Linked DNA regions of Homo sapiens. The protein of the gene in region 1 interacts with the protein of each later gene in a pairwise test. Each region holds a gene or a part of one and is shown in the gene's direction. Other genes may lie near its edges.

Region 1 (7,040 bases):
TCCTTCCCATGCCTCCCACCCCGAGCGCTTTGAGTTGCTGTTGAACCACCTCACCCGCATAGAGTTTGCTCATCTTGCTCTGGCGCTGCTTGTGACCGGAAGGCAAACAGTGGCTTTCTGGGCATCTTCCCTGTCTGTGTCTGTGTCTCTCTGTACTCCTGGCCTGGATTTGAAAGTGACAAGCAGCAGCAGATCTGAAGACCCTCATGCCTTGTCCCCTCCATCCTGACAAGTGACAAAGTCTGGCTTTGTGACATGTGTGTTTGTTTCTTCTGTGTTAAAGGGCCTACAAAGGGAGACATGGAAATCCCCTTTGAAGAAGTCCTGGAGAGGGCCAAGGCCGGGGACCCCAAGGCACAGACTGAGGTGAGGACTGCGGTGCCGGCAGGGACTTCGGGACGCGGCCCCCGGCACAACAGGCCTGGCCACGAGCTCCACAGCCCACAGAGAAGTGTCGGTGCCTGAGATCGGGGTCAGGAGCCAGCGTGGTGCACCCTACCCCACTTGAGCCCCATGTTGGTAGGGTGCCCATGTTCACTGTGCCAGTTTTCCTCCTGGCACTCCTCTGGGGAGCAGCGCTCATCCCCCTTTTGTCCAACTCACACCTCATCTTGGGCATCACCTCCTCCAGGATGACCTCCTGGCTTCCTGCAGCTGCCTGCTCAGTGCCACCCCTCAACATACACTGTGTATGCTGCCCACTCTTGTCTCCCTGACTGGCCTTTCACCTGGCTGTTAGCTGTGTGCACGGGGCCCTCAGAGCGGTGACCATTCACTTGGGCATCAGCCAAGGGCTGGGCTTTGTGCCAGTGCTGGGGACATGATGTGGCCCTCTCTTCATGGGTGACAGGTTAGTGGAAGAAGCAGACCCAAAAAACCCAAGTAGACAAGACACAGAAATACAGTGATTTTGAATTCTGGTGAGGGGAGAAGCCAGCAGAACGCTGAGACGGGAGGTGGCAGGGGGTCCTGTGTCCTCTGTGGAGGCAAGTTCTCACCACCTCACTCTGTCCCCTTGCACAGGGCTCAAGCAAGTGACCACAGTTATCCTGAGCAGTTTCCTGCCCCCTCTTCTCCCTAAAGAGGAGAAAAGCTTCCACGCGAAACCATAAATTAAGAATTTCTGGCTGGGAGCGGTGGCTCACGCCTGTAATCCCAGCACTTTGGGAGGCTGAGGCGGGTGGATCACCTGAGGTCAGGAGTTCGTGACCAGCCTGGCCAACATGATGAAACCGTGTCTCCACTACAAATAGAAAAATTAGCCAGACATGGTGGTGCATGCCTGTAATCCCAGCTACTTGGGAGGCTGAGACAGGAAAATCACTTGAACCCAGGAAGTGGAGGTTGCAGTGAGCCGAGATCGCACCACCACGCTCCCAACTGAGCAACAGAGCAAGACTCTGTCTCAAAAAAAAAAAAAAAAAAATTTCTTTCCTGACCTCACAGCCATATTGTACTTTAAAGTTCCTCCCACATCCTTTTGCCCAGGCATTTGGAGGCGGGGGGAGCATAGTAAGCCCTTTTATGGGCTCTCTGTGCCCTGGGCCTCACTTTTTCCATCTGTAGAATGAGAAGACTGGACCATTTCAGCAGGGATTCTTTTTGCAAAGGGCCAGATAGTGAATATTCTGGACTCTGCGCAATCTCTGCCGTGTTGCTCAGCTTTGCTGTGGAGCACGTAAAAGCAGCATGGACAACATGTAAATGAATGGTTATGGTTGTATTTCAATAAAACTTTATTTGCAAAAACAGGCAGTGGGCCAGTGCTAACCCTTGGTTAGCTGGCGTCTCTCCAGCCCTGGCTTTCTATGGTCCCCTGACTGTTTTGAGAGGTGTAAAGGACCCAGTCATGGTTCTGATTTCCATGCATTGATGGTGAGCCTTGGCAGGCAGGAGCAACTCAAGGAAGAGAACCTGTACCAGTACCAGTCGGAGCCCGTGTCTCCCTCGCCGTGTGGATGGGGTGGCCACACCTTCCTCACCGTGTTTTGAGGAGCGAGTGGCCGGAGGCTCAGTAGGGCCTAGCCTAGTGGACATGCCTGGTGTGACCCCATTTCTGCCCCTTCCTTCCTGGCCTGGGTGACAAAGGGAAGTGGGTGAAAGGAGGTGGGCTGGCAGGGAGCATGGGGTGGGAGAGGGTCGGAGAATCTGGAGGCTGACTGGTGTCTGGCTTGCAGGTGGGGAAGCACTACCTGCAGTTGGCCGGCGACACGGATGAAGAACTCAACAGCTGCACCGCTGTGGACTGGCTGGTCCTCGCCGCGAAGCAGGGCCGTCGCGAGGCTGTGAAGCTGCTTCGCCGGTGCTTGGCGGACAGAAGAGGTGGGTCTGTGTGAGGCTTAGAACAGCCTCTGGAGGGTTGAGCAGCTTGTAATGCTGCTTGCTAACTGAACAACTAAAATCTTACCAAACCTAACGCTGGTGATGCTGTTGGGAAATTTCAGTTTCTGTTTTGCTGGTGGCCTTCTCATTTTAGACACTGTTTCTGGACTTAACATGGGATATTTAACAGACCAAGCCATTTTCATTCTCTTTGGCTTGTGTTGGTATCTCCAAGTGGTAACTATACATCCTGCTTCCCTGCTGGGTTCTGATCCAAACTGAGACATCGATCCTGGGTTCAGCTGAGAGGCAGTTTCCCTGAGGCAAAGCTGGAGACTGTAATGTGGCCTGCAGTCAGAGTGGCCCATGCCCCTGAGCTGATGTCCGTCGAGTCTGGGCAGACCAGCTGAGGGGCTGTGGGCCCACACAGACCTGGACAAGCATGTTCACTTTGGGAGGAGGCAGGCTGACCCTTCATAGATAATCTCTTTCAAACAGAGAGGCAGGGGAGGAAAGGGACGCAGCTCAGGCCAGGGGTGGTGAGTTAGGACGTTGTCCTGCGCAAGGGAAGTGGCTGTCCCTGGTGCCGTGGGGCAGTGTGCTTCCTGAAGGTTCCACGCCTCAGGGAAAGATGAAAGTGGGTGTCACAAAGGTGTTTTTTCTAATGATACCTTTTTTTTCAGATTGTAAGAGTATTTTATGCTTATCATAGAAAACTTGGACTATGTAGAAAACATAAAGATACAAATTACTCATAACCTTGAAGCCCAGAAGCAACTCCCCATATTTTGGTGTATTTCCTTCTGTGTTTGTTGTTGTTGTTTTGAGATGGAGTCTCACTCTGTCGCCCAGGCTAGAGTGCAGGGGTGCGATCTCAAGTCACTGTAACCTCCACCTCCCTGGTTCAAGCAATTCTCCTGCCTCAGCCTTTTGAGTAGCTGAGATTACAGGCGTGCATTACCACACCTAGCTAATTTTTGTATTTTTAGCAGAGACAGGGTTTCATCAGGTTGGCCAGGCTGGTCACAAACTCCTGACCTCAGGGGATCCACCCTCCTTGGCCTCCCAAAGTGATGAGAGTACAGGCGTGAGCCACCATGCCCAGCTTGTATCATATTTTAAGAGTTACATTTATTATACAGAGTCTTCTCTTTGAAAATTAAACTGATGATTTTGAAAAACTAACAGTGGCATTGTTAGCCAGAATTTCTCACCAACCCAGCCTGCTGATTCCAGAGCAGTTGGAATGACCTGGAGGGGGCTCAGGCGGCCCACACGGCTCATTGTTGGGTGCCAGGGATAGCCCAGAGGCTGCTGGGGCAGAGCGTGCAAGGGAGGAGGCCGGTTGGCCCCGTGTTCCCCCAGCTGCACACACCTTCTGATGTGCAGTTGTGCTTTCTGATTTGAAAAGAAATACATGCTCATGTGGAAAATTTTGGAAATGTTCAAAAGGAGAAAAACATCCAGACCCCCGTGCCAGTCCTCCTGCCCTCTGCTTGGTTGTGCCAGTGTCCCAGGCCGTTGGGGGTAAAGGGAGGAAGGCAGCTGCTGACCAGCGGTAAAACCTGCTCTCCCTCTCCCCGCTGTCCAAGCCTTCCTTAGAAAGGGCTGGGCTGTGTGTGAGACAGAGGAAAGCTCTGTAGACACAGGGGTGGCCCTGCCAGTGCACCCAGGCTGGTGACTGCAGTGAGTCCACCCTGGGTTCAAGACAGCTCTGCCTCTTTCTGACTGTGTGACCTTGAGTGAGCCAGAACACAGGCCTGTGCCTCCGGGTCTGCACCTCTGAGAGAGGGGAGGAACAGGAAGAGGCTGCCTTCTTCCCGCCAGCATGTAGGGGGCACTTGGGGGCGTCTGGTGGGAGACCAGTCTGGCCTCCCAGCTGGAGAGTGGGCGTGGCGCGATGTCCTCTTGAGTCAGATGTCCATGCATCCTTCCCTGGTAACCAAGTCCTGACACCTTCTATGAGTCTCGCTCGAAAGCCTTCCAGGCAGAGTTGGCAGGGTCAGAGTGGCACCGAAAGCCTAGGCAGGGCACACAAGGCCTTTGACCACATCCTATCCCTCAGGCATCACGTCCGAGAACGAACGGGAGGTGAGGCAGCTCTCCTCCGAGACCGACCTGGAGAGGGCCGTGCGCAAGGCAGCCCTGGTCATGTACTGGAAGCTCAACCCCAAGAAGAAGAAGCAGGTGGCCGTGGCGGAGCTGCTGGAGAATGTCGGCCAGGTCAACGAGCACGGTGCGAGGATTCACCCTGGGCACCAGCCTTCCCTGGGCGCCAGCCTTCCCACAGGAGCCAGGACCTTCCCATAGGGGCTGGGACCTTCCCTCAGGGGCTGGGTCTTCCCACAGGAGCCGGGACCTTCCCTGTGAGGACAGGGCCCTTCCTTGTGGGGACCAGGGGACCAGAACCTTCCTGTAGAGACCGTGCCCTAGTGGTGAGGTGTGTGGGTGGCATTTTGACAGCATCTGCCCTGGCTCAAGTGCTCACTCATTGAATAAACCAGAGGGTATTCTGCCCAGTGCTCTGTGACCACGTCTACCAATGGGACGGACTGTGTCCATCACCAAGTGGGAGCACGCTACGTGGTGCTGAGTCCACCCCAGCTACTGGAGGTACAGAGGTGTGGCCCCTGCTCTGCCTGCCCTGGGGGCCCTATGATCCCCAGAACGTAGGATGCCCCTGGAACTGGCGTGCCCTAGGAACAGTGCGCCAGTTTCTGGTGGGCTGCAGGGCACGAGGAGATAGTCAACTTGTCTGACTGTTAATCCACCCTGTCCCCTGCAGATGGAGGGGCGCAGCCAGGCCCCGTGCCCAAGTCCCTGCAGAAGCAGAGGCGCATGCTGGAGCGCCTGGTCAGCAGCGAGTGTGAGTGCAGCCCCTGCCCCGTCTCACCCATGCCTCCCAGCCTGCACCTGCAGGGCGACCTCTCCTTCCTGTGCGACTCCATCCTGGCCTGCCCTATCTCACCCGTGCCTCCCAGCCTGCGCCTGCAGGGCGACCTCTCCTTCCTGTGCGACCCCATCCTGGCCCTGCTAGGATCTCAGGCGGTCCGTTTGGGGCTCAGTGTTCTGGACGCTGGGAGTAGACCCTGCCCACCTGGAGCGCACGCACTGGAGGGAAGGCAGACCCAGGACAGAAACCATGATGTGCCAGTCCCTCTTGGACAAGGAAATACTGGGGGTGGGGACTGGCGGGGGGGTCCTGAGTGGGGAAGGATGAGGAGGGCATTAGGGGAAGGGGCTCCGGGCAGAGGGAACAGCATGAGCAAAGGCCCAGGAGACCCAGCAGGGTGTGGAAGGGGCTCTGCCCCAGCGTAGGCCCTTTGTAGGTAGGCAGGGAACAGAGTGGGCAGAGCCTAGGTTGGGGGATAGAGTCTCTGGGGCACACTGAGCTGGGGGTGCCTCTGGGATGTTTGTGGTCAAAGACTGAGAAGAGACGTCACATCCTCCACGTGCAGCTGGCCAGCCTCACTGTCTTCCATCCACGTGGGGTAGACTCTGCAGTCTGAGGCACTGGGAGCTCCTGTCCTGGAGAAGATAGACAGGCAGGAGGCTTGGGGGCTCAGTATCAATGGGGGGATGGGCCAAGACCCAGGTCTGCCACAGACTCTTCTTGTGACATGGGCAGGTCTCATTTTTCTTTCTGGGTGTCAGTTTCCCCTTCTGAACAGTGAGATGATCAGACAAGGGGACTGAAGGACCTCGCCCATCCTAGAAGCCTCTGTGGCATGTAGGGCAGAGTACAGGTGGGAGCACAGATCCCACCTTCCCACTGGGCCCGTGAGGAAACCGTCCATAGGGTGTGGTCAGAGCCCTCGCCTCTGCGTGGGCGGACATGGGTGCTTGCGCTGCTGTTTTCCTGCTCCATTTGGGGGAGACAAAGAAACACCTCACATGGAAGTGGGAAGAAATCTGTGACTCTAGGAAGCCCGAGGACCAGAGAGGCTGTGACAGTGTCCTGCCACCGAGGTGGCATGGTGCCTGCTGTCCTGAAGTGAGGTGCCTCTGGGCAGGAGCAGCCCAGCCTGGGTCTCCATCCTGGGGGGCACTGCAGGCAGAGTCTGGACCCCAACCTCACTTCCCAGTCCCACAGGGGTTTGTGATGAGCCGGGCACACCTGCTGCTGGGCCCTGTCGCTGTTGCTGGGGGCGAGTTAGGAGTCAGCGCTGCCAGCCTGTGGTCCCCTCCGCCAGGCCCTCAGGGACAGGGCCCCAGCACCCCCATTGTTTCCCCTCTATCAGAACGTTCCCATCAGGCATCATCTGTTTCTCTGCCAGCTTTTCCAACAGAACTCCCAGAAAGGGGCGTCTGTCATCCCCTTCTCTCGTCCTCCGTCCTTTGCTCTCAGGCCTCTGCCATGTTATTCCACCAAAGCGGCTCGTCTAGGCCATCAGTGACCCCCCTTGCTCAGTCACTTCTTGTCCTTGTCTGACTTGATCTGTCAGCAGCGTGGGCAGAGATGACTGCTCTTCTCCTTAGAGCCCTCTCCCCCACCAGGCCCGGGGCCCTTGCTGCCACACTGGCTGCTCCTTCTTGGGGTCCCTAGACTGATGTCCTGTCTCTCAGGACAGGACATCCTGCCCAAGGTATTCATCCCTATGAGGACAGGGGCCTTCCTTGTGGGGACCAGGGTCTTCCCGTAGGGACTGTGCTCTGGTAGGGAGATGTGTGGGTGGCATTGGTGACCACTCTCGTGTGTCAGACGCCGTCCTGAACCC
Region 2 (7,040 bases), on another chromosome or scaffold:
TGAGGTCAGGAGTTCGAGAGCAGCCTGGCCAACATGGTGAAACCCCATCTCTACTAAGAATACAAAAATTGGGCCAGGCGTGGTGGCACATGCCTGTATTCCCAGCACTTTGGGAGGCCGACGTGGGCGGATCATGAGGTCAGGAGATCCAGACCATCCTGGCTAACACGGTGAAACCCCGCCTCTACTAAAGAAGTACAAAAAAATTAGCCGGGTGTGGCGGCGGGAGCCTATAGTCCCAGCTACTCAGGAGGCTGAGGCAGGAGAATGGCGTGAACCCAGGAGGCGGAGCTTGCAGTGAGCTGAGATCGTGCCACTGCACTCCAGCCTGGGCAACAGAGCGAGACTCCATCTAAAAAAAAAAAAAAAAAAAAAAAAATTGGCCAGGCATGGTGGTGGGTGCCTGTAATCCCAGCTACTTGGGAGGCTGAGGCAGGAGAATTGCTTGAACCCAGGAGGTGGAGGTTGCAATGAACTGAGATTGTGCCACCAGGCTCCAGCCCGGGCAATACAGCGAGACTCTGTCTCAAAAAAATAAATAAATAAATAAATAAATAAATCGTAATAATAATTATGGATTTGTCTATTTCTACTTTCAACCCTGTCAGTTTTTGCTGTGTGTGGGTGTGTGTGTGTTTTGGTTTTTTGGAGACAGAGTCTCGCTCTATTGCCCAGGCTGGAGTTCAATGTCACAATTATAACTCACTGTAATCTTGAACTCCTGGGCTCAAACCATCCTCCCACCTCAGCCTCCCAAGTAGGTGGAACTATAAGTGGGTGTCACCACACCTGGCTAATTTTTTCAATTTTTTTTGAAAGCCAGTGTGCTGGGATTATAGATGTGAGCTACCATGCCTGGCCTAGAATCTTTTCTGAACTGATTGGTAATGAAAATAGCAACCTATCAAAATTTGTGGGATGCAACTGAAACGATGATTAGAACTTTATCATCGTAAATTTTAAATTAGAAAAGTGTTTAAAAATCTAGAAATTTACCTGAAACTTCTACCTTAAACTAGAAAAAGAGCAAATTAAACTCAAAATGTGTCGAAGGAAGAAACTAATCAAAGAGGGGAATGCACAGAATAGAGTATGGACACGATGGAGAGAATCGGTGAGACCGAAACTTGGTTCTCTCAAAAGACGAGTTGGCAAAAACTCTAGATTGACTGATGGAGGGAAAAAGGGAAGGTCCAGGTACGTTACCATTTTCAGGGATGGGAGAGGAGTGTTCACAGGTACAGATGGTGCAGATAGTAACGGGCGATAAGGAACTTCTTGCTAATAAATTTTCCAGATTAGACAAATGGGCAAGTTCCTTTAAAGATAAAACTTATCTAAATTGACATGTGAAGAAATAAAAAAATCTGAGCCCTTTTATCTATTAAAGATACTGAATTTTTTAAAGTATAAAACATTCCAGGCTAGGGTTGGTGGCTGACACCTGTAATCCCATCACTTTGGGAGGTCAAGGCAGATCCATCACTTGAGCTCAGGTGTGTGAGACCAGCCTGGGCAATGTGGCAAAACCCCATCTCTACAAACAATACAAAAAAACTGTCCAAGTATAGTGGCACTCACCTGTGGTCACAGCTACTCGGGAGGCTGAGACGGGAGGATGGCTTGAACCCAGGAGGTCGAGGCTGCAGTGAGGTGAGATGACGCCACCGTACTCCAGCCTGGGTGACAAAGTGAGACCCTGTCTCAAAAAAAAAAAAAAGACAACCTCAGGCTGGGTGCGGTGGCTCATGCCGGTAATCCCAGCACTGTGGGAGGCCAAGGCGGGTGGACCACCTGAGGTCAGGAGTTCGAGACCAGCCTGGCCGACATGGTGAAACTCCGTCTCTATTAAAAATCACCATTTTTTTTTTTTTTTTTTTTTTTTAGGAAAAATGGACATTTTCCTCTCCCCCTAAAAAAAGATAAAACTCCTTCCTGGTTATTAACTGAAATGCTGATCGAGCTTTATCCTAAAGAAGATCAGTCGTGGACAAGAACCTTGTGAAATGTTCCCCATTTGAGACCCTAAAACTAATGAAAATCACAGCTTTTGGGTAGGTAATAAGGTGTTTTGTTTTGTTTTTTGAGACGGAGTCTTGCGCTGTCGCCCAGGCTGGAGTGCAGTGGCACCATCTCAGCTCACTGCAAGCTCTGCCTCCTGGATTCACTCCATTGTCCAGCCTCAGCCTCCTGAGTAGCTGGGACTACAGGCGCCCACCACCACGCCCGGCAAGTTTTTTTGTATTTTTAGTAGAGACGGGGTTTCACCGTGTTAGCGAGGATGGTCTTGATCTCCTGACCTCGCCATCTGCCCACCTCTGCCTCCCAAAGTGCTGGGATTACAGGCGTGAGCCACCGCGCCCAGCCAGTAATAAGGTTTGTCTGACGGTGATTGACAGCATTTTAGAGCTGATGCATGGCAGTAGAGATTGCAGCAAATCATGTGTCATCACCAAAACTTCACTGAAGAAGCAAAACTAGGCCTGTCACCCGTGCTGTCTGTGTACACAGATGGGCTTCAGAGCCTGTCACACGTGTTGTCCGTGTACACAGATGGGCTTCGGGGCCTGTCATACGTGCTGTTCGTGTACACAGACGGGCTCCTGGGCCTATCACCCGTGCTGTCCGTGTACACAGATGGGCTTCGGGGCCTGTCACACGTGTTGTCCGTGTGCACAGATGGGCTTCGGGGCCTGTCACACGTGTTGTCCGTGTACACAGACGGGCTTCAGAGCCTGTCACACGTGCTGTTCGTGTACACAGACGGGCTCCTGGGCCTGTCACACGTGCTGTCCGTGTACACAGATGGGCTTCGGAGCCTGTCACACGTGTTGTCCGTGTACACAGATGGGCTTCGGGGCCTGTCACACGTGTTGTCCGTGTACACAGATGGGCTTCGGGGCCTGTCACACGTGTTGTCCGTGTGCACAGATGGGCTTCGGGGCCTGTCACACGTGTTGTCCGTGTGCACAGATGGGCTTCGGGGCCTGTCACACGTGTTGTCCGTGTGCACAGATGGGCTTCGGGGCCTGTCACACGTGTTGTCCGTGTGCACAGATGGGCTTCGGGGCCTGTCACACGTGTTGTCCGTGTGCACAGATGGGCTTCGGGGCCTGTCACACGTGTTGTCCGTGTGCACAGATGGGCTTCGGGGCCTGTCACACGTGTTGTCCGTGTGCACAGATGGGCTTCGGGGCCTGTCACACGTGTTGTCCGTGTGCACAGATGGGCTTCGGGGCCTGTCACACGTGTTGTCCGTGTGCACAGATGGGCTTCGGGGCCTGTCACACGTGTTGTCCGTGTGCACAGATGGGCTTCGGAGCCTGTCACACGTGTTGTCCGTGTACACAGACAGGCTCCTGGGCCTATCATGTGTGCTGTCTTTGTAAACAGTCAGGATCCCAGGACTATCACGCGTGCTGTCCATGTACACAGGCAGGCTCCTGAGCCCATCACACGTGCTGTCCGTGTACACAGATGGGCTTCAGAGCCTGTCACACGTGTTGTCCATGTACACAGACAGGCTCCCGGGCCTATCATGTGTGCTGTCTGTGTACACAGGCAGGCTCCTGAGCCCATCACGCGTGCTGTCCGTGTACACAGGCTCCTTTCCATTGAAGTTCAGCTTGGCATAGAGCTTTTTATGAATTCGATTTGTCAAACACCTCAAAATAAGAATTTTTTTTCTTAGGAAGTCAGCATGAGTTAATAAAAGTAAATTGGGTGTTGGCCGGGCGCGGTGGCTCACGCCTGTAATCCCAGCACTTTGGGAGTCTGAGGCGGGCAGATCACCTGAGGTCAGGAGTTCGAGACCAGCCTGGCCAACATGATGAAACCCCATCTGTACTAAAAATACAAAAATTAGCCTGGCATGGCGGCACATGCCTGTAGTCCCAGTTACTCGGGAGGCTGAGGCAGGAGAATCACTTGAATCCGGGAGGCGGAGGTTGCAGTGAGCCAAGATCATGCGATTGCTCTCCAGCCTGGGCAACAGAGCAAGACTCCATCTCAAAAAAAGAAAAAAAAAAAAGTAAATTGGGTGTTGTGGCGTGTGCCTGTAGTCCCAGCTCCTGGGGAGGCTGAGGCAGGAGGATCCCTTGACCACAGGAATTTGAGGCCAGCCTGGGCAACACAGTGAGACCCTATCTCTAAAAACAGACAAGTAAACCAGCACCCAGCTTCACTAAGAGACATCATCATTAGTTGAATGTTGGAGATGGTGTAGATCCAATTTACCAGTGACCACCCACAGGTTAGAAACATTTCAACAATAGGCTTTGTTTCAGCTTTCTTCCTTTACTGCAGGGTGCAAGGCAGCCGGCCCATGCCTAGGCCCCAGCTTCGCCAGCAAAGGCCAGGCAGAAGGAGGCATCACCATGAGAATCACCATCATGGTGCTGCTGGGATGGGACAAACCTCGTTTTGGTGGAGTGTCAGTGTTTTCAAGTTAGGGGCTCTGTTTACATAACACGTCTATACTGCCATGGATTTTCTCAACGGGCGTAAGTTGCTCCTGACTTGTCTCAGCGGGCGTTTAAGATGCTCCTGAATCGTATCCTTGTCATGTGGGAGCCTCCATTGGAGAGAAAGCCGACTGACCGGCAAGCACAGACCTGCCCTGTGCTTTCTTCTCTTCAGCAACCGCAGCCGGGGTGTCTGTCTTCCCAGGTGCAGCCGAGTCTCAATTCTGTTTCAGAAACTATCTCAGGGCTATGGGGCTTGGAGCTGATTGTGTTTTCTGAGGTTTGTGGTTTTCAAGATGTTTTAAATTAAACAGGCAGTTTTATTTATTTTTGAACCTTAGTGCATCCGATTGGATCCATCAGAATCTCCTAGTTCATAAAGAATTGTTGATGCTGGTCTCTGTTAGCTTTTTTTTTAAAAAATTTAGAGCTAGAGTCTTGCTCTGTTGCCCACGCTGGAGTGCCGTTGTGTGATCATGGCTCACTCCAGGTTCCAGATTCCAGGACTGCTGGGCTCACGCAGTCCTCCTCAGCCGCCTGAGTAGCTGGGACTCAAGAGGTGTGTGCCACCACACCCTGCTAATTTTTTGTAGAGATGGGGTCTCACTGTATTGCCTAGGCTGGTTTCAAGCTCCTGGGCTCAGATGATCCTCCTGCCTCAGCCTCCCAAAGCGCTGGGATTATAGGCATGAGCCACCACACCCAATCTGTTAGCCTCTTTTTTTTTTGTTTTCTTGAAATGGAATCTCGCCTTATCACCCAGGCTGGAGTGCAGTGGCATAATCTTGGCTCGCTGCAACCTCTGCCTCCCGGATTCAAGCAATTCTCCTGCCTCGGCCTCCCGAGTAGCTGGGATTACAGGCACGCGCCACTGCACCTGGCCGATTTTTTTATTTTCAGTAGAGACGGGATTTCACCATGTTGGTCAGGCTGGTCTTGAATTGCTGACCTCGTGATCCACCCACCTCGGCCTCCCAAAGTGCTGGGATTACAGGGGTGCACCGCCACCGTGCCCGGTCAGCCTCTCACTAGCTGAGGAGCCAGAACTTTTCCTGTTCTTACCCTTCTCCCACTGCCTGTCTCCCCTCCAATCTGTATGTGAATGTATGTTGTGAGGTTTTATCCATTTAATATTATACTCCTAAGATTCATCCATATTGTGTGTTCAGTGGTGGTTCATTCATTCATTCATTCTCACTGCTATAAAAAGGTTCCAGACTTGGCGTGGTGGCTCACGCCTGTAACTCCAGCTCTTTGGGAGGCTGAGGCAGGAGGATCGCTTGAGGTCAGGAGCTCAAGACCAGCCTGGGCAATGTGTTGAGACCCCCATCTCTACAAAAAAATTTAAAAAATTAGCCAGGCATGGTAGCTCACGCCTGTAGTTCCAGCTACTTGGGAGGCTGAGGCAGGAGGATGCTTGAACCCAGGAGGCCAAGGCTGCAGTGAGCCAAGATCACACTGCTGCACTGCAGCCTGGATGACAGAGCGAGACTCTGTCTCAAAAAGAGAGAGAGAAGGTTTCATCGTATGAATTATTTTTATCGTATGTCATTTTGTTTTTCTATTTTGAGATGGAGTCTTGCTCTGTTGCCCAGGCTGGAGGGTAGTGGTGCGATCTTGACTCACAGCAACCTCTGCCTCCCGGGTTCAAACGATTATACCACTTCAGCCTCCCAAGTAGCTGGGATTACAGGCTCCTGCCACTGTGCCTGGCTAATTTTTGTGTTTTTAGTAGAGACAGGGTTTCGCCATGTTGGCCAGGCTGGTCTTGAACTCCTGACCTCAAGTGATCCGCCTGCATCAACCTCCCAAAGTGCTGGGATCACAGGCGCGAGCACCTCGCCTGGCCTATCATTTTCATTAGGAAAAGTTTGTAGGTTGATGGGTCCTTGGTGCCTTTTTTTCCTGCCTGCTGCTGGAGAGGAGCTGAGGCTTGAGGAGAAAGGAGGAAGAAGGAACTTTAATGCATTGGCTGAATATATATATTTAACGTTTTGTCCTGCAGATGGTCCTCTGTAAATGGAGTAAATTACAATATTTGAGGAGTCTTCCTTACCTCATCTCTGAAGGCAGAGATACCCCATAGCCTCGGGGCCCCGGCTTTCTGTAGAGCTGCTGACAAAGTCCCCCTGAGCCAGAGCTGAGTCACTGCTGTGTCCAACAGTCTCGGGTTCTTGCATCTTTCCCGTCCAGCGTCTCGCACTGACCCTGGGGGTCCCCAACGCAAGCCCGTTCACATCTCACTATTCATATCTCAGCATGAGCGTTCACACTGTAAGTAACGCCCTGGCTCTTCTCCAACCTGTTTTTCCAGATAAACATTGACGATCTTGAGGATGACCCTGTGGTGAACGGGGAGAGGTCTGGCTGTGCGCTCACAGACGCTGTGGCACCAGGGAACAAAGGAAGGGGTCAGCGTGGAAACACAGAGAGCAAGACGGATGGAGATGACACCGAGACAGTGCCCTCAGAGCAGGTGGGGGGCTGAGTGGTGAGGAGGTGGCATCAGACGGGAGAGTTCCAAGGCACCCAGCCACGTGTATCCTGTGCTGTGATTTTCCTTGGAGGTGTAATTTT
Region 3 (7,040 bases), on another chromosome or scaffold:
AATTACAAGGATGAACCCTGAAAATATTATGCAAGTAAAAGAAGCTAGATATAAAAGACCATGTATGATTCCATTTACATGAAATGTTCAGAAGAGGCAAATCTGTAGAGACAGAAAGTAGATTAGTAGTTGCTTAGGGTTGGGGAAGGGAAATGATGGGTATAGAGGGAGTGATTAAAATGTTCTCAAAATTACTGTAGTGATGATTGCACAACTGTGAATATATTAAAACCATAAAATTATGTTCTTTAAATGGGTGAATTGAATAGTATGTGAATTATTTCTCAAGCTGCTATTAAGTAAAGGTTATTTGTCCAGTTGTAGTATTGGGGTAATTTTATTTCCTTTTTGTTCTTTTATTGTGTTTTCTAAATTTTCTACAATGAGAATGATTTGCTTTAATAATCTGAAAAACTGATGATAAATTGGGAGAGATAAATTTCTGTAGACTTTGTAGCACAAATGTCTGCTTCCTACAAAACTAATCCTTTCCTAACCTTTGATATAATCCTCATTGCCATTTTTTATTATATTACTTAGCAGAGCAACAGTTCTTTTCTTCCTGAAACAGGGAAGACATTCAAACCGCAAGTTTCATTTCTTCATGTGGGCCCAGGGATAGCTTCTTTGTACATATTCTGATGTTTGCCCTGAATAAACTATACAGGGCTGTCCTTATGTATAGAACTGTGTAAATATAAAGCAGAATACATTAAAGATTTATTTCTAAGGGCAAAGGATCAAGTGATTTTTGATTGGACAGAATTGTAGAAATCTCTGAAACTCTTAAGAAGAGAAATGAACCTGCCCAGGGCCTGTACACAGCTAAACTCAGACTGATGATTCGAACTTCCAATCATGTCAAGGTGCCTCAGGCCACACTTTTTTCTATGTATTATGACATTATTTTAAAATTATGGAATGTTTTCTGTGTATTGGGTTTCTTCTCAATATTATAAAAATTACAAAGAAATAATAAATGCCATTTATTATTATACCTTATCTCATCAGAGTTGGGGGAACTAACTTTTGTTGCTTAGTTTATAAACAACAAGATTTGCAGGTGAAAACTCAGTGGCTCAGCTCATTTTTCTTGTTTCTTCATCTGAACAGGTGATGTGTTGCTAAATATCAACGGCATTGATTTGACCAATTTAAGTCACAGTGAGGCAGTTGCAATGCTGAAAGCCAGTGCCGCGTCCCCTGCTGTTGCCCTTAAAGCACTTGAGGTCCAGATTGTTGAGGAGGCGACTCAGAACGCGGAGGAGCAGCCGAGTACTTTCAGCGAAAATGAGTATGATGCCAGTTGGTCCCCATCATGGGTCATGTGGCTTGGGCTTCCCAGGTACTGAGCGCTTTCTTGTTGCTTTATGGAAATCATAATCATGCTTGCAGCCCTTATCAGTGTGTAGCATGATAAATTTACTCGTTGGGATAAAAAAAAAAGCTTTAATTCAGTAAAATAGCAACATCAAATCAAATTACAAAAGAAAAGGATAATTTTTCTTAGGATATTACACTTTAAAAGGTACACAAAGAAAGCAGTTGTGTCCATTCCTGTCAAGGCTCCTCAGTGGGCTAGCCATGAGATTGGATAACCCAGCCTCTTGCTTAGAAAAGTTGTCGTTTACCAGCACTCATTCCGCTATGTGCTGAGACTTCATGCATTTTTCATCAGAAAACCCAGGCCAATCTTGGGGCTTCCCCCCATCCCAGAAGCCTTTCTTAACACCTTTTTAAATTTATTTTAACTCTCGCTAAAAAGGGTGGCATTTAAAACTCAATTTTTATTGGATACAAGAGTCTATTAAGCCAAACCATTAGTGTTCAAGAATGGCTGCTTCACTTTTATTTTTTATAAATGTGACCAGCCAAGATATGCTGTGGTTGGTCAGTGTCGGGGTCACAGAAGCACATGGAACCTCCAGTGGCATCCCAGGGTACATTCCTTTCCGCGGTTGTTGTTTGACATTTGAGATAGGAAGAATGTGTTCCTATCATCATTTGTTGTCTAATCCGTTTAGATTCTTACCGTACCTAAGAATCCTAAAACTAAGCTATGAAGCATTTTGACTTTTGACCAAGTATGAAAATTATTGATTCTTTAAAATAAAACAATAAGAATTTGCTATTTTCTGAGCCACCTGACTCGTGGGATACATTTATAACAACAACTAGCATTTATATAGTGCTTCAAGGCGCTTTGCGCATAGTGGGTGAGAAGTGGTCTACTCGTGCAGTGGCTGGGCAGCACGTTGCAGACCTCAGAGCTTGTCTGCACCTCTAATGATGGGGCAGGCAGAGAGCAGCAGCGTCCTGGAGAAACTTGGTCCCTAGTGCTTCCTTTAATTTTCCTTATCTGATATACCAGTCTAGTTTGGAGGTTGGCACATTGACCTCTTTTTTTCAGAGCATTTTCTGGTGTGCCAGGCATAATAGCAAAGATTTTAGATGAGAAATACACAGTATAGTAAAATCTGTTTTTGAGCCCACCTGTGTTGAAAGAATACCTGTCGATAAAAGGCTACTATTCAATGTGTGTATGGAGGTCTCTGTTGAATGCAAAGCTATATTCAACAGCCATGTGTCCTCCTCAGTGGGTGCAGGTGGCCCCTATATGCAGGTTTCACACGGCATAGTGTAGCAGCTCTGCTCTGCTTTTCGTGAAAAGGGAGATTCTTCCACTGCGATTTGCTGGGGTATACAAGAAAGCTGTTTGTTTCAGAAGATGCAGCATTAGGAAAATAACCAACACTGTCCCTTTAAATCCAGGCCAGTGCATGGGACCTTGTTCCATCCCAGAAGCCTTTCTTATCAGTGAGCTAGGAAACTAGATAAGATGAGAAGTTCTGGCATGGTAAACATTGCTTTATAGAATTGGCTTTATTAAGAAATAATAAAACAGGATTTTTAAAATTAATTATTTATATTATGTATATTTATTATTTTATTATGGATTTAAAACAGGAAACCTTGCCTTCCGTGCATTTAGATCCAGTTTCACCTAAAGATGAAAGATATTTATTTATTATGAAGAGTTTTTTTTTCCTTATCATTTAGGTGTGCTTTTTTTGTTTGTTTTGTTTTTAAGATTTTACTCACTGCTTGTTCCCAAATCCATAGAGCTATGGAAACATAAGTACATTTTTTTTTTCTCCCTCTCTGGACACATCCTGCAATCTGGCAGTAGCATTCTAACTGTAGTTTCTCAGTGTCTATGATACATTTATATATGCATGTGTGTGTATAGATGTGTATATATTTTCTTTTTTTTTAAAGATGGGGTCTTGCTCTGTCACCCAAGTTGGCATGATCATAGCTCACTGCAGCCTCAAGCTCCTGGGCACAAGCCATCCTCCTGTCTCAGCCTCCCAGTAACTGGGACTACAGACACATGACGCTGTACCCAGCTTGTCTATGATAGAAAAAAAAAGAAAAAGATTTTTTGTTAGTGTTTTTCAGATTGATTTCTCTATTTTGGCAATTAGAGTCTCCCTTAAAATGAAAACATCCTAAGTAAAGGAGAAAATAACAAATAACTCCTCATGTAGACTAAAAGCCTATAGGACCTTTAGAAAAGAGAGATAATTATCTGCCTTCTTTTCGGAAGCTGCGTTCCTAATCTTTTTCTTCTTTCATTTGCATGCTGGGCTTGGCAGTACTAGACCTCTTTCATCCCACATTGTAATTCCTCTTGTAGATAAAAGTGATTAGTAGAATTGAGGACTTTGTTGACAATGCAGTGAGCTGATATAGGTACATGACCTTTTTGTACAGGTTACTGAGGTGTAATTTGTAACCAGGTTCTCTACTTGTGTGTGTGTGTGTATGTGTGTGTGTGTGTCTTCACTTGGGAAGACTGAAAAAAGTTGGAGAAATTTGAGTCTACCTAGGACTGTGTCTCTGCTAGAAGATGGATTGTCAAAATAATCTATTTATTAATAGCCCTTTTTCTTTTTTCCAAGAGTGGTAAATATAACATGGTATGGGGTTATAACAAAAATAAGCGGCTATAAAAGCCTCCATGTTAATTTTTTCTTTATTTTTCTGTTTGTTTATAGCACACTTCATAGCTGCCACGATATAGTTTTACGAAGAAGTTACTTGGGAAGTTGGGGCTTTAGTATCGTTGGTGGATATGAAGAGAACCACACCAATCAGCCTTTTTTCATTAAAACTATTGTCTTGGGAACTCCTGCTTATTATGATGGAAGATTAAAGTGAGTCTTGTTCTAATTAATGATGTGATTCATGTTGATGACATTGGACATGATCTAGACCAGGGGTCAGGGGTCAGCACTAAATCCAGCCCATTATCTTTTTGAAAATAAAGTTTCATTGCAGTGCAGCTACACTTACTGGTTTATGTACTCTCTGGCTCCCACACTACACCAGCGGAGTTGATGTCATCATGACAGAGACTGTATGGGTCTTGAAGCCTAAAATATTTACCATCTGACCCCTTACGGAAAAAATTTGCCAATCCCGATCTAGACTGAAATGTTACCTTTACTGTCTTGTCACTTATAGCTATGTTTCATTAATCTGATGACAGAAACTGAACCTGAGTTATTTCATTGGACATATTTCATTCATCACGTTGTGATGTGACATTGAGCGCTGAGTAAGTTTCCCACACAGCCTACTCAGGTCCAGTCCTGTCATTAGATGACTCTGCTTCATTTTTCTCCATAGCACTCATCTCTACCTGAGATCGTATTTATGCAAGCTCCATAAGGGAGGGATCTTGTTGCATTTATTGTTATATCCCTAGCAGTCATAACAATACCTTGCATAAAGTAAGATCTCCATAAATATTTGATGAATGAATGTACAATAGCTTACAGGATGCCTGGCGCGGTGCTAAGTGCTGTGCATGCATTATGTAATCTTTTTAACAATCCTATGAGGTAAGTTTCTTTATTATCCCTGTTTTAAAACAAACAAGATAACTGAGGCTTGGAAAGGTTAAGAAACTTGCCCACAATGAAATAGCTGAAAGTGGTTGGCTGGCATTCAAACCCAGGACTATCTGGCTCTAGATCCCTGGACTTTAACCCCTCTGCCAGCCTCTACCACTGAGCAAAAGTCCTCGCTCAGTGTACAGCGTCTTATCAAAGCCCGGGCACTGGGAGAAGAAAAGAGAAGGTGTCATGGCAAGACATCATCACCAGCAGAGAGGAGGTGGTTGATTGTAAATTCTTAATACCTGGTTTACGAAGGAAGAACCAGTTCTTAAAAAGTAAATGTTGACATTCTATATAGAATGCTATGCAGATGGAGAATGTACACTGTTTGCAAGGAGTAAGTGACATCTAAATAATGTATGGAAAGGTGATTGGGAGTGGTATGCTCCAGGTCAGCCTATATTGATAAAGATGAAAAAAAATCATTTTAGGAGGACAGAGTAGGGAAAAATGAATTAATCACTCTCTTAGCTAAGTTACTTAACCAGTCTGGGCCTCTGTTAATTATAATTTGTATTCCTCCTACTTCCAAAAAGAAATTGAGGTAGTTAACAATAAAATAGTATATTTATGGTATAAATAGAAGACCAAAAACCATAAGGATAATTATGGTAATTATAAGGCTGGAAAGGTCCTCCAATTCATCATCCATCCATAATAATTCTGCTTAGAGTACAGTGAGCGTCAACAGCTGAAAGAAGAGGAAGTATGGGTCTTATTTCCAATTTAATTCAGCCCTCAGATGTATGAGCTCTAAGAATGAATAGAAAAATAGCAGTCAAAATAATAACCCCCTTCAAATGCATGACTTGGTATTTTTTTAAAGAGAGAGCATATTTACTCTATATTTTGCTTAAATTAGTGTGAAAATTACTCTGCTTGTCCTTGACATTCACCTACTGGTTATGGAGTCATCGGCACAGGGGTTTCCTTGATTGGCAAGGGAAAGCCAGCATAGGCTTAAGGGCTGTCCCAGACAAAGTAGATTATACACCCTAACCATTGACAGTTCAGTGGTAAGTGAAACCGCATTTTTCATGCTACATAAATCTCAATTGGGATATTTTTAATACCATGAAAATAGTAACATTCTGTATCTGTCTCTCTTTGTCCAGGTGTGGTGACATGATTGTGGCCGTAAATGGGCTGTCAACCGTGGGCATGAGCCACTCTGCACTAGTTCCCATGTTGAAGGAGCAGAGGAACAAAGTCACTCTGACCGTTATTTGTTGGCCTGGCAGCCTTGTATAGATTTTGGAAATTGGTTTCAAATCTTGCATCTTCCTTTTTTAGATTTTTGAAAGAAAACCCTTTGGTTTCATTGTGTTTGTGGTTTAGGAGCTGCTGACACTGCTGGTATACACAGGGCCAAAACCCACTAAGATTGTCCGTTTATGTTTATTTAAATGGTTTCCTAAGTTAGTTACATTTCTTTTAGCTTGGAAACAGTCTTCCACTAACCTTTGTGAGTTTATATTTTCAGAATTCAGACTTAGTTGTTAAAATGTTACCTATGGTAATGAGCAAAGCTCACCCAAACTGTGCCCCAGATGGAGTAAAGACCTTCTGGTGGGTCTTTGTTTTCAGTAACTGAATCATAGAACGAGTTCTGTATCCCTCAGGCCTGATGTCAGCAAAGCCAGTAACAACAGCGTGTACTGCCACTGTCATAACCAATACCATGAATGAATATACTTTAAATTTTGGTGATAACTGTTCCCCATTTTTTTTTGAACCACAGTCTCACTCTCACCCAGGCTGGAGTGCAGTGGCACAATCTCAGCTCACTGCAAGCTCCGCCTCCTGGGTTCACGCCATTCTCCCACCTCAGCCTCCCGAGTAGCTGGGACTACAGGCGTGTGCCACCATGCCCAGCTAATTTTTTGTACTTTTAGTAGAGACGGGGTTTCACCGTGTTAGCCAGGATGGTCTCGATCTCCTGACCTTGTGATCTGCCCGCCTCAGCCTCCCAAAGTGCTGGGATTACAGGTGTGAGCTGCCGCACCCGGCCGTTCCCATTTTTTATTGGTGCCAACATTTCAAAACTTCATACTGTTTATAAACTGATTTTCT
Region 4 (2,591 bases), on another chromosome or scaffold:
CATTCATTTGACAAATACTTTCTGAGCATGCACTATGTGTCTGACACTGTTCTAGGCATTAGGGAGACAGGAGGAAGCAAATGCAAAACCCTGCCCTCATGTGCTTATATTCTGTAGTGGGAACATCCTTCCCCATCAGTTCACATGGATCCAGCTCATTGTCTATAATAACTGCCTGGAATTCCACAGACTGCACGTGCCATACCTTATTTAACCATTATTCCTTTGGCAGATGTTTAGGAGGTTTTATTGTTACTAACCCACGCCACAGTGAACATCGTTGCACTTATCCTTGTCTATTTTTTGTAGGTTCGTTCTAAGAAGAAGTTGTTAGGTCTAAGAGTATATTCACCTAAAATCTTGATACTGCCAAATTGCCATCCAAAAATGCTGTACCAACAACACACCCACCAGCGGGGACCAAACATTCCAATTTCCCCATCTTCTCACCAGCTCTAGAAATTATTTGCCAATTGGATGGATGAAAAATGTTCTCATTGTGTCCTGTTCTGTTCTGTTCTGTTCTTCTGTTCTGTTTTGTTTTGTTTTGTTTTGAAACAGCTCTGCTCTGTTGCCCAAGCTGGTATGCAGTGGCACAGTCACGGCTCACTGCAGTCTTGTCCTCCTGGGCTCAAGTGATCCTCCCACCTTAGCCTCCTGAGTAGCCAAGACTACAGGCAGACACCACCACACCCAGCTAATTTTTGTATTTTTTGTAGAGACAGGGTTTCGCTATGTTGCCCAGGCTGGTCTCAGACTCTTGGGCTCAAACAGTCCTCCTGCCTCAGCCTCCCAAAGTGCCGGAATTACAGGTGTGAGCCACTGCACCCAGCCATCATTGTTTCAACTGGCAGTATGTCCAGTTAGTGATGTTAAACATCTATTAATAACCTTATTGGCAAATTTTATTTCTTCTTCTATGAATGTCATTTTTCTTTTGGTTTCATAATTCCCATCTGCTTGGGAAGTTCCAAGAAACTGTAACATAACACATTTGTTAATAGCACCTTTCTCTGTAATCTTTTGTCTATGCATCTATTTTCTTACCTTTTCTGTCATTTCAGTGTGCTTGTGAGGCGGTGCACGTAAGTGTACTAGACATGCCATCTTGAAATAGAGATCCATTCATTTTAAACAGCACTAAATTGCCTATTTTTCTAATATAGATTTATCAGGGGAAGAGAAACATTTGGAAGTCCAAATACTGCTGGAGAATACTGGAAGACAAAAAGACAAAAAAGAAGACCAAGAAAAGAAAAACATTTTTGTGAAAGAAGAGCAAGAACTACCACCAAAAATAATTGAAGTTATTCATCCTGAAAGAGAAAGCAATCAAGAAGATGTTCTAGTAAGAGAAAAGTTTAAAAGAAGCATGCAGAGAAATGGTGTGGATGACACACTTGGCAAAGGCACTGCTCCCTACACGAAAGGCCCCCTCAGACAAAGAAGACATTACTCATTCACAGAAGCAACTGAAAACCTGCATCATGGGCTTCCTGCTTCAGGGGGGCCAGCCAATGCCGGCAACATGAGGTACAGTCATAGTACAGGCAAGCATCTCAGTAACAGAGAGGAAATGGAGCTAGAGCATTCTGACAGTGGGTATGAGCCCTCATTTGGTAAGTCTTCCAGAATAAAAGTGAAGGATACAACTTTCAGAGATAAGAAAAGCAGTCTCATGGAAGAACTCTTTGGATCAGGCTATGTCTTGAAAACTGACCAATCAAGTCCTGGTGTTGCAAAAGGCTCAGAGGAGCCTTTGCAAAGTAAGGAGTCGCATCCCCTGCCTCCCAGTCAGGCCTCCACCAGCCATGCTTTCGGAGACTCTAAAGTAACTGTGGTAAATTCTATTAAGCCATCGTCACCTACAGAAGGAAAAAGAAAAATAATTATTTAAATATAATCAATATCCTAATGCATTCTGGTTTGATATAATGCTGCTTATGTGCCTTGCATCTTATTTTTGAAATGTGTGAGAGAGGGAGTGTATGTATGTGTGTGTTTTAGTACTTAATTGACTTTCGATAATTAAATTTTTGTTTGATTGCTAATCTAGTAAAAAATCTATTTTATATTAGCCAATGATAACACTTCAAATACAAATTTACATCTTTACAACTGAAACATCCATTATCTTCTGGAAGACTGGTTTACTATATGGTTTTAGTATTCTGTGGGACTCCATAGCTAGTAACTCTTAAGTTAGTCAACCCAAGACATGCATCTCCTACACAACAAAATTTATCAGCAATAGAGTTGAATTGTAACTTAAAAACATGGAAGCAGGCCAGATGCAGTGGTTCTTGCCTGTAATCCCAGCATTTTAGGAGGCCAAGGTGGGAGGATCACTTGAGTCCAGGAGTTTAAGACCAGCCTGGCCAACATGGTACAACCCCGTCTCTACAAAAATTATAAGAATTAGCCAGGTGTGGTGGTGTGTGCCTGTAGTCCCAGCTACTTGGGAGGCTGAGGTCAAAGAATCACTTGTGCCCAGGTCGAGGCTTCAGTGAGCATGATCGTGCCACTGCACTCTAGCTTGGGCAATCGGAGTGAGACCGTGTCTCAAAAAATAAAAACAAAATGTGGCAGCA

Evidence for each region.
Region 2: the proteins of WFS1 (region 1) and TCF25 interact in binary tests that used the Homo sapiens proteins (3 or more experiments, as listed by UniProt).
Region 3: the proteins of WFS1 (region 1) and LNX2 interact in binary tests that used the Homo sapiens proteins (3 or more experiments, as listed by UniProt).
Region 4: the proteins of WFS1 (region 1) and LCA5L interact in binary tests that used the Homo sapiens proteins (3 or more experiments, as listed by UniProt).

What each region holds. Positions count from the first base shown.
Region 1 is NC_000004.12:6,286,810-6,293,849, forward strand, and holds part of WFS1 (wolframin), read left to right. Parts: intron 1-283; coding exon 284-366; intron 367-2,177; coding exon 2,178-2,322; intron 2,323-4,387; coding exon 4,388-4,558; intron 4,559-5,107; coding exon 5,108-5,188; intron 5,189-7,040. UniProt on the Homo sapiens protein: Participates in the regulation of cellular Ca(2+) homeostasis, at least partly, by modulating the filling state of the endoplasmic reticulum Ca(2+) store.
Region 2 is NC_000016.10:89,876,574-89,883,613, forward strand, and holds part of TCF25 (ribosome quality control complex subunit TCF25), read left to right. Parts: intron 1-6,777; coding exon 6,778-6,939; intron 6,940-7,040. UniProt on the Homo sapiens protein: Component of the ribosome quality control complex (RQC), a ribosome-associated complex that mediates ubiquitination and extraction of incompletely synthesized nascent chains for proteasomal degradation.
Region 3 is NC_000013.11:27,547,513-27,554,552, reverse strand, and holds part of LNX2 (ligand of Numb protein X 2), read left to right. Parts: intron 1-1,113; coding exon 1,114-1,345; intron 1,346-4,061; coding exon 4,062-4,220; intron 4,221-6,082; coding exon 6,083-6,218; 3' UTR 6,219-7,040.
Region 4 is NC_000021.9:39,405,188-39,407,778, reverse strand, and holds the end of LCA5L (lebercilin-like protein), read left to right. Parts: intron 1-1,047; exon of another isoform or gene 1,048-1,166; coding exon 1,167-1,897; 3' UTR 1,898-2,051; downstream 2,052-2,591.